2 separate regions of the Homo sapiens genome follow, and region 2 is linked to region 1. Evidence: fine-mapped expression QTL. A gene starts in region 1. The other region holds a variant in brackets. All regions are shown on one strand. Distances are from middle to middle.

The links. PIP is the estimated chance that this variant, and not a neighbour inherited with it, causes the effect.
Region 2: its variant is fine-mapped to the expression of MRPS18A in spleen (GTEx, PIP 0.92).

Annotation. Positions count from the first base shown.
Region 1 is chr6:43,682,909-43,691,239 of GRCh38, forward strand. MRPS18A (mitochondrial ribosomal protein S18A) reads right to left here and starts at 4,883. Exons shown (of 6, transcript NM_018135.4): 1 at 4,760-4,883. The coding sequence starts at 4,871. It overlaps LOC124901320 (a long non-coding RNA gene), which reads left to right and starts at 6,054. Exons shown (of 2, transcript XR_007059586.1): 1 at 6,054-6,431; 2 at 6,763-6,985. RefSeq lists enhancers at 1,200-1,249, 4,637-4,696, 4,642-5,253.
Region 2 is chr6:44,529,225-44,537,555 of GRCh38, forward strand. No RefSeq gene overlaps it. Among named protein-coding and RNA genes, the nearest start is that of MIR4642, 98 kb to the left of the region's middle. The variant T/A (reference allele first, on the strand shown) is at 4,758.

The DNA of each region.
Region 1 (8,331 bases):
TAATCTGAGCAACAAGTAGTGGGGAAAGTTTCTAAGAATCCCCAAAGGAACCAAAGGAGAGACACGTTCTGGTACCACTGGAGTCGGCAGAAGAACAATGCCTTGAAACACAAGTGGATAAACATGTGGTTCCCTGCTTGGTGGAGGCACTTGGGTCCTAACCATGAGGTAAACAAGTCTAACAAAACACACATCACTCCCGGCAAAGTACCAAATCCTGAAGTCATCCCACTGGCCCCTGGAAAACAGATCAAAGCCCATGGCAAGCTCCACTGTTCACAAACTCCCCCTCCACGCAGCAACTGTGAGCCAGCGAATCATCTTACTAGAAGCCAGTGGGTAAAACAATAGGCAGATGCTTATCTAACAGAGACAATTTGTCAAACCAGAAGGAATGACCTGAGAACTCACATTGAACTGACACTGATCAGGGTGGTGTCTTAGTGCAGGGGGAGAAGGCCCTGTTGGAACCTGGTCCTTGAGGCCCTTAGTAGATTTTAAGCCCCTCGAAAGAGGAGATAGGAATCAAAATAGTATTGATTTACAGGGTGCATACAAAAACGTGTCAAAACCAAACAAAACCTGATCCATTTTGTTCCTGGCTGCCTCCCTATTCAAGAGAAGTGGGGGTGGCTAAGAAAAGCTGGACTGAGAGATTTAGGCAGTAACAGAAAACTTGTTTAGAAAAAGATGGAATCACCCTTGTGTTCTGAGATATGGCAGTATCAAGTAAGCTAAGGGAAGAGATGAAGCAGTTTTCTAAACTGGAACTAAGGGCCAAAATCTTTCCAGATAAGCACTTCTCATACACATGAAATAATCTGTCCCCAGTGAGGCAACACATTTGCTGGGCACTTATGGACTATACAGCTTCATTCTACCTACTGTGAATTACAGTAGAATAGGAGCCACAGTCTTTGCCCTAGAGGAGGAAAAGAACTAAACTCTGCATGGGAACTTGACTATAATAAAGTCCATGCCTCGTAAAGAGGTCCTTTGAGTACTTCAGTAAATACTTGCCCAGGATGGAGTCCAAGATAACTGAATTATAACAGTGTGGAACAAATGACATTGTGGTGAGATTGCAGTGAATGCAAAAGGAGGAGATGGGGTGACACCTATAGTCTCAGCTACTCAGGAGGATCACCTGAGCTAAGGAGTTAGAGGCCAGCCTGGGCAACACAGCAAGACCTTGTCTCTTAAACAACAACAACAACAACAAACACAGAAAATGCAAAAAACCTTGATGGCCACATGAACAGACACAGTGAACTGCAGCCATGTAAAGACTCAACTGCTTAATAAAAGAGGAAGTGAAAAAAGATGAGGAGTGCAGGGCACTGCTGAAGTGCCCAGAGACCAAGGTCCCTCTTGGAGAGGATCTGTAAAAACCAGGGCCCAAGCAGAGTAGGAAAGACTGGAGTAACTGATGGCTGGGCAGTGGCCCTAATAGTCTTATGTAGGGTCAGGGAGAGGTGTGCCATGTTTGGGATGTGTGCTTGCATTTCTGGCCACTGACAACTTTTTGCAAACACCTTCCTGCCTCAAGCCCTGCTTCCTCCAGTTCATCTTTAACTCTACCATTAAAGTTTCTGGTTCCCTCATCACCTCCCCCTTTCTTTCCCTTGGACCCCTGAGGGAATGTCCCTCTGCCCTATGCTTCAGAATGAGTCGTCTTACTGCTGCACAAAAATTTCTTCCCACTAGCAGGTTACTCTGGACTATGTCCCCTGAATTCTTTAAAGACTCCAACTCACTCCTCTCTCAAAGCTTTTATATGGGACTGCCCAACCTGCCAGGCATACCCTTGTCTGAAACGTTAGGTCTTCCAGAAGGCCTTCTTAACTGACTGTGAAAGAGATGAAGCAAATTCCCTTTGGCCTTTACTCACTTCAATATACCTTTCTCTAAGTGTCTGACAAATCATGTCTTAATTTATATAATAATATGTTTGTTTTTTTATTTTAAATACATTTCCTTCACAAGGGCTCTAAGAGGGATAAGGGAGGAATGAGATCCAACACAGTCTTTGCTAAATCTGGCAGTGCCAACCATAATGGCACTAAATGGTCTTTGGCAAGTTAACTGCTAAGAGCTTTCAGGGAAGGAGGGAACAATAAGGGAGGCCCTGCCATGGAATACCAAGGTGATGTTACTGGTGGAGAGGGAAGAGGGCTGGCTCTACTTCCAACTCCATCACTTATTAGACAGGTGATGCTGGGCAAGCTATTAAACCCCTTGGAACGGCATTTCCTCATTTATAAAAATGAGGACAGTTAATATCTACCTTTAAGGTGTTTTTGAGAAGACTGAATAAATGTATGTGGAAAACCTAGCACAGTATTTGAAGCAGGCACAGTAAGTCACAATTTCTATTTTCGTCCTCCTTCAGTCTTGCTTTTCCCATAATAACCTTTTTTTGGCTTTGTGTATCTCTCTGGTCAAACTTTAAACCAGGCTTTCTCAACAGCAGCAGGACTGCCATTTTGGGCCAGATGGTTCTTTGTTGTGGGGAACTGACTTGTGCATTATGTTTAGCAGCGTCCCTCGCCTCTACCCCCCAGATGCCAGTAGTACCAGTTGTGACAACCAAAAATGTCTGCAGACATGGCCAATTGTTACTGGGGGACAAAATTGCCCCCCAGTTGAAAATCACTGTTTTAGACTGAAAGTCTTCATAGACAGGAAAATTGGTGCTCAGTCCTCAAGAGCTGACTAAAATTATGTATTATTATCTGATACTTTGAAAAGTAGGATGCCTGAATATTTTCAGCAAGAGAACCAGCTTCTTTCCCACAACTTTAAATTCTATGTGTACAATATTGTTTGGGTGTCACATATACCAGCTGAGACTAGTCAAAATTAGCTATATGTATAATACTTTATGCCTTACACATAATGCATAGACTAGCAAAAGAAAATGTTTTCATTTACAAGCTTTGAAGATAGGTGATTCTTAAGAATATAGAATATGGTAGTGCCTTCATGTAGAATCATATTAATTCAACCTAACATTTAGATGAAGGACTTCAGAGACCCATTTGATTTACAGTCCATCCTTTTTTACTTTTTTTAAAGAGGTGGGCGTTCTCACTACGTTGCCCAGGTTAGACTCCAATTTCTGGGCTCAAGTGATCCTCCCACCTTGGCCTTCCAAAGTGCTGGGATTAAAGATATGTACCACTGTACCTGGCTTACAGTCCATCATTTCACAAACTCTCCAAAGGAAAAAATTAAGTCTAACTTCAAATATTTGTTGTTAAAACAAAACGATTCCTCTTGCCTTTTTTTCTGGAAGCATAGCAAAATCTGCCTCAACTTTGAATTTCATAAGAATATGCAAATTGTAGCCAATAGTGTTTGACACTTGGTAGACTCCCCAAAATGGTATGGAGATATGCCTATTTTGCAGCATGGGAACAAATGAAACATCCAAGTCCTCTCTATCATCTGCATGATTTCTTTAGTGTCTTTATTAATGGGTCTACTAATGGATAAGTTAATCAGGCAATATCCAGACTTTTTTTTCTAGCAAATGCTCCACTTCCCTTACGGGCTAAATTCTTCAAACATACTTACTATTTCCATCTCTTCATCAACTATCTCTTTCATTTCTCCAAACTGGATTCCTTGTTTGCCACTCTATTGAAATTGCTGTTTGAAAGCTACAAAGAGACCTCTTCTGAGACAAATCCAATGGCCCCTTCATTAGGCCCTTTTTAGACTTTTCTGCTCCCTCTGACAACAATGATCACTCTTTTCCACTGGATACTTCTCAGCTTTCGTTAAAGGATATGCTGCCCAATACTATGCCAGATCCTCAAAAAACCCCACATCTCTTCTTTTGCACATCACTCATCCTTTCCTGCTTCCAGGAGTACACAAAGGAAGGCTATGTCCTAAAAGACCGTTTCACTCTCCGCCAGATTCCATCCTTTTGTGAGCCTGCTCAAGACACATCCTCTTTATGAAAACTTCCAACTGGGTTTGCCGTTTCCAGTAACTGAGTCTCCCTGTACTTCGTCACGTAAAAGGCTAACTTGCATTTATTGGAGTGTGTATATACATAATCTCATTAGAACCTAAGCTTTTCAGAAAAAGGGCTGTATTTTCTGTCTCCAGAATTCCTTCACAGCTTGAAGCATAGCACTTGGCATTCAGTAAACTCTCAGTTGATGCTCGAATCAGGCCGCTTTCCCAGATTAAGATTAATGAAAAGCTGAACTACCATCCTGCATTTGCCTATGTCTCAGCTATTCAATGGCCTTTCCACTTTGGCCTCCCCCTCACAGGGAGACTAGCGGCCCGGGGCAGAGAACGCCGCCATCAGATCACAGCATTTTGAGAAGGGAAAGTGGAAAGGGAGGCTCTGGGAGGGTACCCAGATGGCCTTCCTTCGTGATCCAGAGACTCTTTAATAAAAGAGACTGCGATTCGGAGAACATGGAAGGAAGAATTAACATGCAAACCCTTTCCGAAAACTTTTCTGAGCCCTAGGACAGGTTTAGTGTCTGCTCCTGCTAAGTAAGCAGGCTTTTCTCTCCGTCCTCCTCCGCCTTGTGAAGATACTCACAAGGGGCAGGAGATCAAGATAAGGCACCAGGGTGTGGAAGGGGCTTTTAAGCACGCCTGGGGAGCCGGTACCTCCAAAGTTTCAGAATCGGACGAAGGAAAGGTAGGAAGGAGCGCACCGGGGCTGGCGGAAGCAGTCTCTGCCGCTCTTCTTAATTTCAGGAGGTTGCTGGGACGCATGACTCACCTTCCCTGAACCCGCGAGCTGGAAGCCGAGACCAGCTGGTCGCTGCCGGGCCCGCTAGTAGCCCACGGAGAAGCCGCCCACAGCCGGACACCAGAGCCTTGAGGGCCGCCATCTTCAAAAACCTACCCTGACCTCTCGTCCATTTCCGCTTCCGGAACGTAGCGCCCGCCGCCGCAGTGGTGGGGCAGGAACGGCGGGGCGGGGTTGTAGTTCGCTTGCTCCTGTCACATCATTTCTCTCACCTGTCCGCTTTGGGATACGAAGAGAGGCTTCTGCGTCAAGCCTATATTTCGTGTTAAGGATCTAGGGGAGGTCTTCTAGCTCCTGTCTGCCAATGCCTACAAGTCTTCAAGGTTGCATTCGTTTCCTGGAAGGCTTCCTTAGGAAAATCGCACGCAACACCCCACCTATGTCTTTAAAGCTTTCTCTTCACTGCACGTGAGCTGTGGACTTTTAGCTTCTGTGACTGGGGCTAGACCTCTACGGGAGAGGCTGAAATGGTTAGGAACTCTGGCTCTGGAGTATCGGATATCAGGCAGACCTGGGATAGAATTGATACCCCCTTCTTCCCTGACCACTGCCACACTGATCTTTGATTTGCATATACTTAGACCTCTCTCTAGCCCCAGGGCCTTGATACAAGCTATTTCCTTTGTCTGCTCTTTAGCTGTCTAGTTAGCTTCTGCTTATTTCTTAGAGCTCACCTCAAACCTTATTTCCACAGTTTTGCTTGACTGCCCATTCTCAGCACCAGATGCCTCTCCATCTTAGTGCTTGGGACAATTTCAGTTTTATGTTTGTTTTGTATGTGTCTTCTCACCAGACTGTAAGCTCCATGAAGTCAGGAACATTGTTTTCTGTTGACTCGCACATCTCCAGCACTTAGAATAGTTCCTGACACATAATAAGAGTACAATATATACTTGTTGAATGAATGAGTAGAATCTATTTTATAGGGCCTAGGGGAGGACTAGACCCTGAAGATTAGATGTGATAAAACATAAGTGATCGGCCGGGTGTGGTGGCTCATGCCTGTAATCCCAGCACTTTGGGAGGCTGAGGCGGGTGGATTACCTGAGGTCAGGAGTTCAAGACCAGCCTGACCAACATGGTGAAACCCTATCTACTAAAAATACAAAAATTAGGTGGGTGTGGTGGCGGGCACCTGTAATCCCAGACACTTGGGAGGCTGAGGCAGGAGAATCGCTTGAACCCAGGAGGCGGAGGTTGCAGTGAGCCAAGATCACACCATTGCACTCCAGCCTGGGCGACAAGAGTGAAACTCCGTCTCAAAAACAAAACAAAACAAAACAAAACAAAACAAAAGGGCTCAATAAACATAAGCTAGTTAATAGAGCAGTTATGGAGATGACTCTTTTCACAAGTTGGACTCACTTGTGTTGTAAGGAAGCTTATGGTACCAAAGAGAAAATACAACTGCCAGTTTTTCCTCTTTCAGATTTGTGAGACGTATAGGATGTTCCTCTGGAGCTCCACAGGAAAGGAAAATCATTCACAACTCAGTTCTTCCTATCCTTCTCTGATTCAAGATGGGAAAATCAGGCTTATTAAATGACATAGCATGTTTTCTGATGAGTAGGAGAGGAGCCCATCATCCAGTTGGGACCGTCACCCTAATAGGAGGATGCAGAGCAGCTGCTGTATGGAAAATGTGAGTGGCATCACCATAGACAGGGAGAACAGGAGAAATGCAGCATTGGGTTACGTTAAAACATCTCATTTAGCAAAGGTAAACCCGGTGAAGGGGAAACTTAAAAGAAAAGTCAATCAAGGTGGTAGAGACTGACACATGGATTAGGAGTGAAGCAGAGGGTCTTAGTGAGGTGTAGGTCTAGGTGTCCCAGCCAGGATCAAGAAAGCTTTGACTCTCCCTATAGCTTCCAAGTTTGTTCTGCATAGATGACCTTGAGCTTATAGATGTATAGATGACCTTTTGTGTTTGTACTACATCCTCTGTTTCTTCACCCATTTCCAACTTCCAGGAATCCAGTAGAGACAAGGGCAGCAACAGAGCCCCACCCAGGGCTTGCTTTGGACACAGTGAGCTAAAGCATTCGAGTGCCAACCCTCTTCTCATTATCTTATCTTAACTTATCATAAACAAATTTTATTTTAAAAAACAACTATGACAGGTAACATGTGATCATTGTAGAAAAATGAAACAATAAATAAAGTAAAAAGAAAATAAATGTCATCTAAAATCCAGAGATAAGCATTGTTTACATTTAGCAAGATGAAATAATACTGTGGATATTCTTTGCCTTATAATATCTTATTTTTCTGAATCCATTTATGATTAGTCCCTACAATTCTGTGAGACCAGGTTTGGATCAGGAGACTAGCTTTAAAAAACAACACATCTTTTAATTAAAGTATTACCTGTGTAAGAAAAATACACAGGCTGGGTACAATGGCTCACGCCTGTAATCCCAGCACTTTGGGAGGCCGAGGCAGGTGGATCACTTAAGGTCAGGAGTTCGAGACCAGCCTGGCCAACATGGTGAAACCTCATCTCTGCTAAAAATACAAAAATTAGCTGGGCGTGGTAGGCTCCTGTAATCTCAGTTCCTCAGGAGGCTGAGGCAGGAGAATCACCTGAACCCTGCAGGTGGAGGTTGCGGTGAGCCGAGATCACGCCATTGCACTCCAGCCTGGGCAACAGAGTGAGACTGTCTCAAAAAAAAAAACAAAAAACCCAAACAAACAAACAAACAAAAAACAACAAAACACACAAATCATCAGTGTACTGCTTGATGAATTTTCGCAAAGGGACACACTACCCATACTGGAGTGGAGTGGCATGTTCAAGCAGAACTTGACTGGCACTCTAGAACACCCCATTGTGTCCCCTTCCAGACACTACCCCGCAAGGATAATCATTATCCTGACTTTTAGCACAATACATTACTTTTCCCTGCATTTGACCTTTATATAATATTCCACTGTGAATATACTATATTTTAAAAAATCACTTTTTTTTCTGTTGATAGAATTTAGATACTTGCCACTTGGGACTACTACAAAGAGTGCTGTAACGTTCTTCTACGTGACTCTTGGTGAACACAAGAACAAACTTCTTTGGGGCCTATCTCGCGGTAGAACTGTTAGGTTGCAGGGTATGCCTATGCTCAGCTTTAGTAGAAGATATTGCCTTGACAGTTTTTACAAAAGCCTTTTTAAATTAAATTTTTTTTTTTTGAGACAGAGTCTTGCTCTGTCACCCAGGCTGGAGTGCAGTGGCGTGATCATGGCTCACGGTAGACTGGACTTCTTGGGCACGGGTGATTCTCCCACCTCAGCCTCCTGAGTAGCTGGGACTACAGGTACATGACACTATGCCCGGCTAATTTTCTGTATTTTTTGCAGAGGTGGGGTTTTCCCATGTTGCCCAGGCTGGTCTTAAACTCCTGGGCTCAAGCAATCTGCCTGTCTCAGCCTCCCAAACTGCTGAGATTACAGGCACGAGTCACCATGTCTGGCCCAAAGGCCAGGCTAGATACTGTCAAACAATTTTCCATAATGATTGTACCAGTTTACTCTGGTATCAACTG
Region 2 (8,331 bases), 850 kb after region 1:
GGCTCTAGAGGATGAGGATCAGAACAGAGCAGGAGGGTGGGGGTGGAGGGAAAAAGAAACAGAAAAACGTGCAAGTCATAAAGCAGCAGGGAGCCCTGCAAGTCATTAGATAATTAATCAAAGTGAAAAATCAGAAAGCCAGCCTTGGCTGCCATTATGGGGTTGCAGCTGTTTTTGGAGTTTGATTGAATAAAATCTTTATGAAGTTCACGTTTTGTCTCTAATTTCCTCCCTTGTTCTCTCCCATTCTGGGGCCTCATGTTCCCTGACTCCCAGATGTGGTGATAGGTGGTGGCAGGCAGCTGCCCTCCTCCACCCCCCACCCCCACCCGCCTCCCGCCCAGTCCCGGCTTGTCTTGGCCCCTCTCTGCCCTGGCTCCGGTTCAGCTTTCTCGGAGATCTGAATACCCAAGCCCATGCCTCTTCCCATCTTTGCACCCTTTTGGGCTACAGACCAAGTCAGGAAGGGATCTCCTGGAGGCTGACTATTCTCCTACAGAACGGAATGCATTGTGGAGCCCTCCAGATGCTGGCCCCTGCCCCAGGGTGTGAGAGTGGGCTGGGGTCCAGATGGGTGGAACGGGGCATGATAGGTACGGTCAGGCAAGGAGGTTGGCTACTCAGTGTGTACATTGTCAAACAAACTCATCTTTGCTTTACAGGGGACTCAGTTTCTTCATTGGTAGCCTTGATTGACAAAGACCCATTATATGGAGAGTAAAGAAATAAAGGCATTGAGCATTTCCTGAGTTCCAGGGACTTTTGCCTATATGATTGAGTGCTTCTCACCACAGTGCTGCAAGGAAGGCATTTACTGAGGAAGGAGAGAATGTAGAATTGAAGAGCTTACGAGATGTCAAAGTTTGCAGAATGATTCAAAGAGGCAAGGCCAGAGCTCCCAACCAGGCTTCTTGTTTCTAAAATCTGCCAATCAATATAACTCTGAAATATTGAAATACGGCCCCAACCCCAACCCCACCCCACTGCTGTTGTAGGGGAGAAAAGCAGTGTATTTTCCTTACCCATTGCAAGGTTCATGGCTGAGACCCCGTAACAAAAGACAGATTAACAATAGAAAAGTGCTTTTAGAAAAAGCCCAATGTAGAAAAAGGTCCTATTGCCCTTTATACACTGGTCACCCACTGGACTCGGCTCTGTGGACCTGGGGCCACTTCTTGTTCAGCTGCCGATGCAGGAGTGGCGTCAGAGGATGTGCTTTCTACCTTGGACCCCACACGCAATGGAAAACACTGCCACCTCTTTGTGGAAAGTTGTTGCAGGTTGGCTTCCCTGGGAAGCAGACTCTGAGAGGGAGTTTGTGTGCTAAGGATGCTGGGTGCCTGGGGAAGGGGAGAGGGAGCAGGCATGGGCAGAGAGAGAAGCCAAGCTGCAGGGCAGGCCAGTGGCAGCCCTGGCCCCACGGGGAGCTCTGGAGCTAGCATGGCCCATTTACAGTGGACCTGCTTTTGACCCAGGTGGCTCTTCCAAGTCCCCCAGTCTTGCTTAATCACTGGATGTGGGCTGGCCGGGAAAGGACATGGCCTTGAGGGAGATTGCTGTCTACAGCTGAGTCAATGGCTGAGGGGCCAACAGCTGGGATTGTCTGCTGCTAACACTGCCCGCAGCTGCAGAAGCAAGTCTTTCCTTGAAGGGGGATCTGGGTGGTGCATGGCCACAGAAGGGGTCCCAGTACCCCCAGGAGTATAGCTGCTCTCTCCTGGGCTCATCTCATCCTGGGCTCATCTTTCCTGGGCTTTGTACGTGCTTGTATTAAAGCATTGATGGTGTAAAGTGGTGGTTATTGGGCCTGCCGGCCATCATCACTAGGACAGAGGCTGTGATGACACGCTCATATGGCTGTCTCTAGCATGGGGCTCAGAAGGGGGTCTGTAGACCCACATATGGTCTGCTCAGGTGCCCTGCAGCTCTGCAATGTGTGCCATGAACCTGCCTTGTGAAGCCACTGAGCTGCTCCCACATACCCCTGGACCCCAGCTCCTTTTTAGGGGCCTGCCCAGTGTAGAGCTGGCCCCTCCCCACTACACCTTTGGGGTACCCACATTTTGCTTGCCTCTATTTTGGCTCCCAACTCTGCAATTTCAAGGTTATTTTCCTTTCTGGGGCTCTTTGGCTGGTGCTTGGATCCCAGGGACCGCTTCCTGGATTCTGGGAGTGATATGGGGAAGGAGAGAAGGGGGTTGCTTGTGGGCACCAATAGTGGTGCCAGCTCACAGAAGGCTGGAGTGGTGGTCCTGAGGCTTGGGGCTCGGCCTTCATCAGAGGTTTCACTCTGCAGGGAAGCAGCTGTAGACAAAGAAGCCTTGTTCTTGGGGGACTCAGCAGGGAGGCAAAGGGTCCTTTCACAGCGTCTTCATCCCTGCCAGGGAAAGCCGGGGCTGGCTGCCATGTGGAATGCATTTGCTCCTGAAAACCACAGTGAGAGCCATGGCAGTGTGGGTTGGTCAGGGCTGCCTCCTCGAGAGGCCTGGGTCTTTGTGGGGCAGCCATAGAGTACAGGGTGCCGACAGGAGCAGCCTGGGTCAGGGGGAGCCCCCAGATTGACCTGCCCCCCGCACACCAGAGGAGCCCTGGGGTGGGAGTTCTGGACCCGGCCTACCTGGGCAAGTCTCAAGGCCTCCACAGCCATCCGTTTCCTCCTCCTTCCCTGCCCACCTGGCTGTCATGGGAGGCTTAGTCATGCACTTGCCTCAATGTCCTCTGTGGGTCTCTGTTTCCCGGGCTGGTTCCTGATTTGCCTTGACTGTTCTCCTCTCTCTTCTGGACTGTGTATCACTCACCTTTGAATCCTCAGGGCTGGAAAGCAGAGGCTATGTCCATCTGTTTCTCCCAGTCTCTGTCCCACAAGCTTCCCATGCCCATTTCTATCTTTGTGATTTCTTCCATAGATTTTACGCCTTCTGCTTTCTCTCTCTTTCCCATACCCATCCAAAGTTTGTCCCTCAAGCTGTCACTTGAATGCCACCTCCTGAGTGAAATTCACCTCGACTGCTCCAGCCGCCTGTGCTAGTTAGTACTCCAGTAGGGCAGAGCACACGATTTGCTTTTGTTTCAAGGCATGCTCATCCTTTTGCTCAGGAATCTTAACTCTTCATGGCAAGAATAACATGATAATGAAGATAGTAATAGCTAGCTGAGGCTCTGAGATGTTAAGTAACTTGCCTAAGGTCACACAGCCACAAAGTGGCAGAGCTGAGGCTGGATGGGAGCTGCCTGGCTCTGAAGACTGTATTGACATTTGCTGTGCTTTCTCCCTGGGTCGCTGGTACTCCATTATGGCCTTGATAGAAACCACCCTTCAGGTTGTTTAGGTTGGAGAGTTGGTGTGAAGGCAGATGAGGGCTCCTAGGAGGCAGGCAAAGGGGGGACTTGTGGCCAAACCTCAGTTTCTCATGCCGAGGAGACATTGGTACTAGGACTCTGAGGTCAGACCCACACTTAAAAAATTGTTGCTTACTTCCCTTTAGTTCTACATCCCAAGAACTTGCTTCATTTCTTGCTCTCAGTGCAGGAGCTCCTCTCGCTGTCTCTAGCAACTTACGCTTCCTGTGAAACCTCATCCAGGTAAGTTTTCACTTCACACTGCAAAGAATAATAGTGGGGGGTTATTTTTATAGAAAAAACTCCTCAAAGCTGAGCAGTCTTCCACTCCTGGGCAGACAGCAGGAGGCTGCAGGGCAGCAGTGCCTGGAGGAGCTGGAAAACGTTCACTCCATGTATAGATTTCCACTCACCCCTGACTACCACCACTTGCGGGGGTGAGTTTCAATATTCCCTGGTCATCTGAATCCACTTATGTGTCTTTAATCACAGGGGCCTGGGTGTCTTTGAGTCCTTCCTGCTCAGCCTCTCCAGGAATTTGGCACATAGGAATTCTTGGGACTCTCCTACCCTTTTGGAGAGATTCGACTCAAACTGCCTTCACAGAGCCTTCCATTTATTCCTCACTGGGGCAAGGAGGGAAGTGAGGTCTCTCAGCACCTACTATGTGCCAAGCATGTTGCTGGGTGCCTTGAGATCATAAATTACAATTCTTACATTTTCTGCAACACATTGGTTTGTCAGAAGCAGATGCTGAGATGGAGTTTGGAGCAGAGATGTTTATTAGAGGTTAACACTAGGGCAGGAGTGGGGATGGGGGAGGAAGCAGGATATGCAGAGAAGACATTGAACTGTGACACAAGCTCTACAAAGCTTTGATCATCCCTGAGAGGAGTGTAGAGCAAGAATTGCCCATCAGTGTCCGGTATTGGGCTGGAATGGCTTGGGCCTATATATCCCCATCTGGCTTTGTAGCTGGATGCAGGTTGTCCTGGGAAGGAAGTGGCCTTAGGAGTGGTACAGCTCTGTTGCTGAGCCAGATCCTGAAGGAGCCAACACCTGGGGGCTGTCTGCTGACTGCAGCCCCAGAACTGGGGGCTGTAATGGGTCCTGGAAGGGGAATCTAGGAAGTGCATCTTTGTGTCTACAATATACGAAGTGGTCTTCCTATCCTTATTTTACTGATGAGGCTCATAGAGAGTATGGCACTGCCTGTGGCCACACAGCTAGTAAATAGCAGAGTCTGGATTTGAACCCAGGCCTGCCTGAAGTCAAACCTCATGCTTTTTCTGTGAAACAGAACCATGGACCTCGGGGAGGAATAAGGAGCATGTAGTGATGTATAACATTTGTTTCTAGGGTTGTTCATCAGTGTTTGTTGTGCAACTGGGGGGAGAAAATTGGTTCTAATAAGCAGA[T/A]AACAGGTAGTAAAGGACAATGTGTTAACCCCAGGTGCCTAGGAAAAAGCTTTGTAACTCCAGAGGCACGGAGGAGGTAGGCACTACATTCATCTTTGCAATGTGCCTGTGATTTGCCTGCATGGAGGAAAGGAAAAAGTACTCTAGATAGCAGGTACAGCCTCAGCAAAGGGATGGAAGTTGGAATTGACAGAGGCTGGACAAGGGAAAGTGGGCAGAGGGACCTGGTTTGACGGGAGCAGTGCAGCCAAATAAATGAAATGGTACTGGGACTATGAAATCCAGTTTCATTCTGCTCACCTCCACAAGCTTTTCCGGAGCATCTACTATGTGCCAGGCAGCTGTCAGTCCAGAGGAGCCCTGAGCATGCACACAGTGGGCCAGAGAGTGCTCTTCATCCCCGTGCCGAGAAGACCTCAATCATCGCTCTGTCCTCTAGGCTTTGTAACTGGAGCCAGAAAGTCCAAGCCAGTCCTAGGGATGTGCCCCCGCCTGCAGGGGCCACTGCAGAAGAAATGCTGAGGTCAGCCCTGCCTGAATCTAAACCTCCTGGGATTGGGATGAGTCAGGGAGAGGCCCTGCTAGGGATGTAGGAGGAGGGCCACTTAGCTTCTCTACCTGCCATGGTGAAGGTAAAGCTGCTAATGCCACCCTTTGGGTCCCTGGGGAGGACAGAGTGAGGCTGAAATTAGTCCTCAAACATCCTAGGAGTCCTCAGGGTGAGGCCTGGGGGACCAGCCTACTTGGGGGTGAGGAGGCGGGAGAGTGGGTGCAGGGGACAGTGCTCCCTCCGGCAGCTTCCCAGTGGTGGGATTTCATGCACCTGTAAAACAACAACAAAAATAAAGAAAAAGCAAATGCACATCTTGATTCGGCCTAAGAGCTGCCTGGTAAAAACATTAGGAAAAAACCCCCCACTGTTATGGGTTGAATTATATCCCCCTAAAAAGATATGTTGAAGTCTTAAATCCTGGTGCCTGTGAATGTGACCTTCCTTGGAAATAGGGTTGTTGTGGATGTAATTGGTTAAGATGAGGCCATGCTGGAGCAGAGTGGACCCCCTGATCCAATATGACTGGTGTCCTTGTGAAAAGGGAACATTTGGGCACAGAGGAAAGATGAGGTGAAGACATAGACACCGGGGAGAAGGCCGTGTGAAGACGGAGGCAGAGGCTGGCATGCTGCAGCTGTAAGCCAAAGAATGCCAAAAATTTCTTGCCCCCATCAGAAACTAGGAAGAGACAGGAAGGATTAGCAGGAGGATGGCCCTACCCACACCCTGATCTTGGACTTCTGGTTTCCCAAACTGTGAGACAATAAATGTTGGTTGTTTTAAGCCAGTTTGGGGTACTTCGTTATCGCAGCCACAGGAAGCTAATACACTTGTCATCAATTTCACCCTTATTTAAGGATATTCTAACTCCCAAGGTAGCGATGACAATTTCAGGACACCCTTCAAGTTGAAAGCATTTCACTTTATGAAAAATCTACTCTGGGGACCTATTTCTCTCCACTCAACTTGGACCAATGAAAATGCCATCTCAGACCAGCCCCCATTCCCACACTGCTGTAGCTGAAGGAAATGGGGGAGGGCATCAGCCACTGTGGTCCTCGTGGGTTCTTGCCCTTTCTGGGCCTTCGTGTCCATGGGGGTTGGACTGTGAAATTCCTTGGGCCCCTCTCTCATCCGAGGCAGGGGGATCTGTAGGTGGAAAGCCGTGTGAGGGCTCAGGTATCAGTGAAGCATTTCTTAGTTACTTCTCACCCCGGAAAACGCATATCCAGAGCTGTGGGATGTCCACAGATTTGTGAAGGGGAAATTGGCCATATTGAGGGCAGCATGAATAATGCTTGTATCCATAAGACACTCAGAGGGCGCTCAGTGAGCACTGGGGAGGCAGAGATGATGAAGACTCCCATCTTCCAGGGCCTAGGAGAGAATGACCACTTTGGACTAGGATGAAAGGATAGGTTTTGTGATTGAGTGCTAGGATACACACCTGAAGAGCATCCATACTGGTGGCCCATGAGCACGCCTTGATCCGTGGTACTGTTGCCTGTGCAGTTTTCAGCTTTTAGAGCTACCTTCTCAACGTATCTTCTATGGGACATGTGTTCATTGTGATGTTAATGGAAGTTAGGTGGAAACATGACTTAGTGGTAAATTATACCTGAGAAAGATTGTGTCAAATGGCCATAAACAGATTTCTCTCCTGCAGGACTTCTCAGAGCCTTTAATATGCTAAAAGGTATTGTCAGAATGCAGCCTTTCTAAAATTCAACTGGCAATGGAATTTTTTTTCTCTTAAATATGGCGTATCTCCTGGGATTATTTTCTGGAGATTAATCTTTGGAGACCATTCTTCTAGAAACTAGGTTTCTGGCCAGGCACGGTGGCTCACGCCTGTAATCCCAGCACTTTGGGAGGCCGAGGCGGGCGGATCACGAGGTCAGGAGATCGAGACCATCCTGGCTAACATGGTGAAACCTCGTCTCTACTAAAAATATAAAAAAATTAGCCTGGCATTTTGGCACATGCCTGTAGTCCCAGCTACTCGGGAGGCTGAGGCAGGAGAATTGCTTAAACCTGGGAGGTGGAAGTTGCAGTGAGCTGAGATACCACTGCACTCCAGCCTGGGCGACAGAGCGAGACTCCATCTTAAAATAAAAAAAAAAAAAGAAACTAGGGTTCTGAAGTTTTCTAGGCGGTACCTAGTACCCTGTGCAACTTCATACTTAACCTTTCTTGCTGAATGCAGAATGATGTCAGAGTTGATGGTGATGATGGTAAGATGAGGTCATGATTGTGGCGGTGACACTGGTGATGAGAACATTGGTAATGAGGGTGGGTAGCTTCTTTTAACTTTAGTAATCCCCAAGAAGAAAGAGCTCCCTTTCTTCTTAGAAAGCAGACAGGCCTTCGGTATATCCGTGACATTATTAGGCTTTAGAGAGTTAATGACCTGGGCTGGCAGCAAAGAGATGGTGCCTAAAAAGTCAGGAATGTACCACTTAGGGAGGTCTGTAGGCCCAGGACTAATAAGACCTTAGCAACATGGGAGACCCACTAGGAGTGTGCACCCTTGTGTCCTGGAGCCTCTGTGGACACAAATGCAATAAAAAACATAAGATTTTCATCCCCGGGATTCCAGGAATGGTGAGTGGGTGGGTAGTGTTGTGAAGGTTGGTGGATTCATTCAGAAATGAGGCTGAAACACGTGTGGCTGCTTCTGAGCACATGAGTCCCCTCCATTCTCAGCTCAGCCATGCTGGAGAAGGCCAGATGATTTACAATATGGTTAGGCTTTGTGTCCCCACCCAAATCTCATCTTGAATTATAATCCCCATAATCCCCATGTGTCAAGGGAGAGACCAGGTGGAGGTAATTGAATCATGGAAACAGTTTGCCCCATGCTGTTCTCACGATAGGGAGTGAGTTCTCACGAGATCTGATGGTTTTATAAAGGGCTCTTTACCACTTTGCGCAGCACTTCTCCTTCCTGCTGCCTCGTGAAGAAGGTATCTTGCTTCCTCTTCGCCTTCCCCCATGATTGTAAGTCTCCTGAGGCCTCCC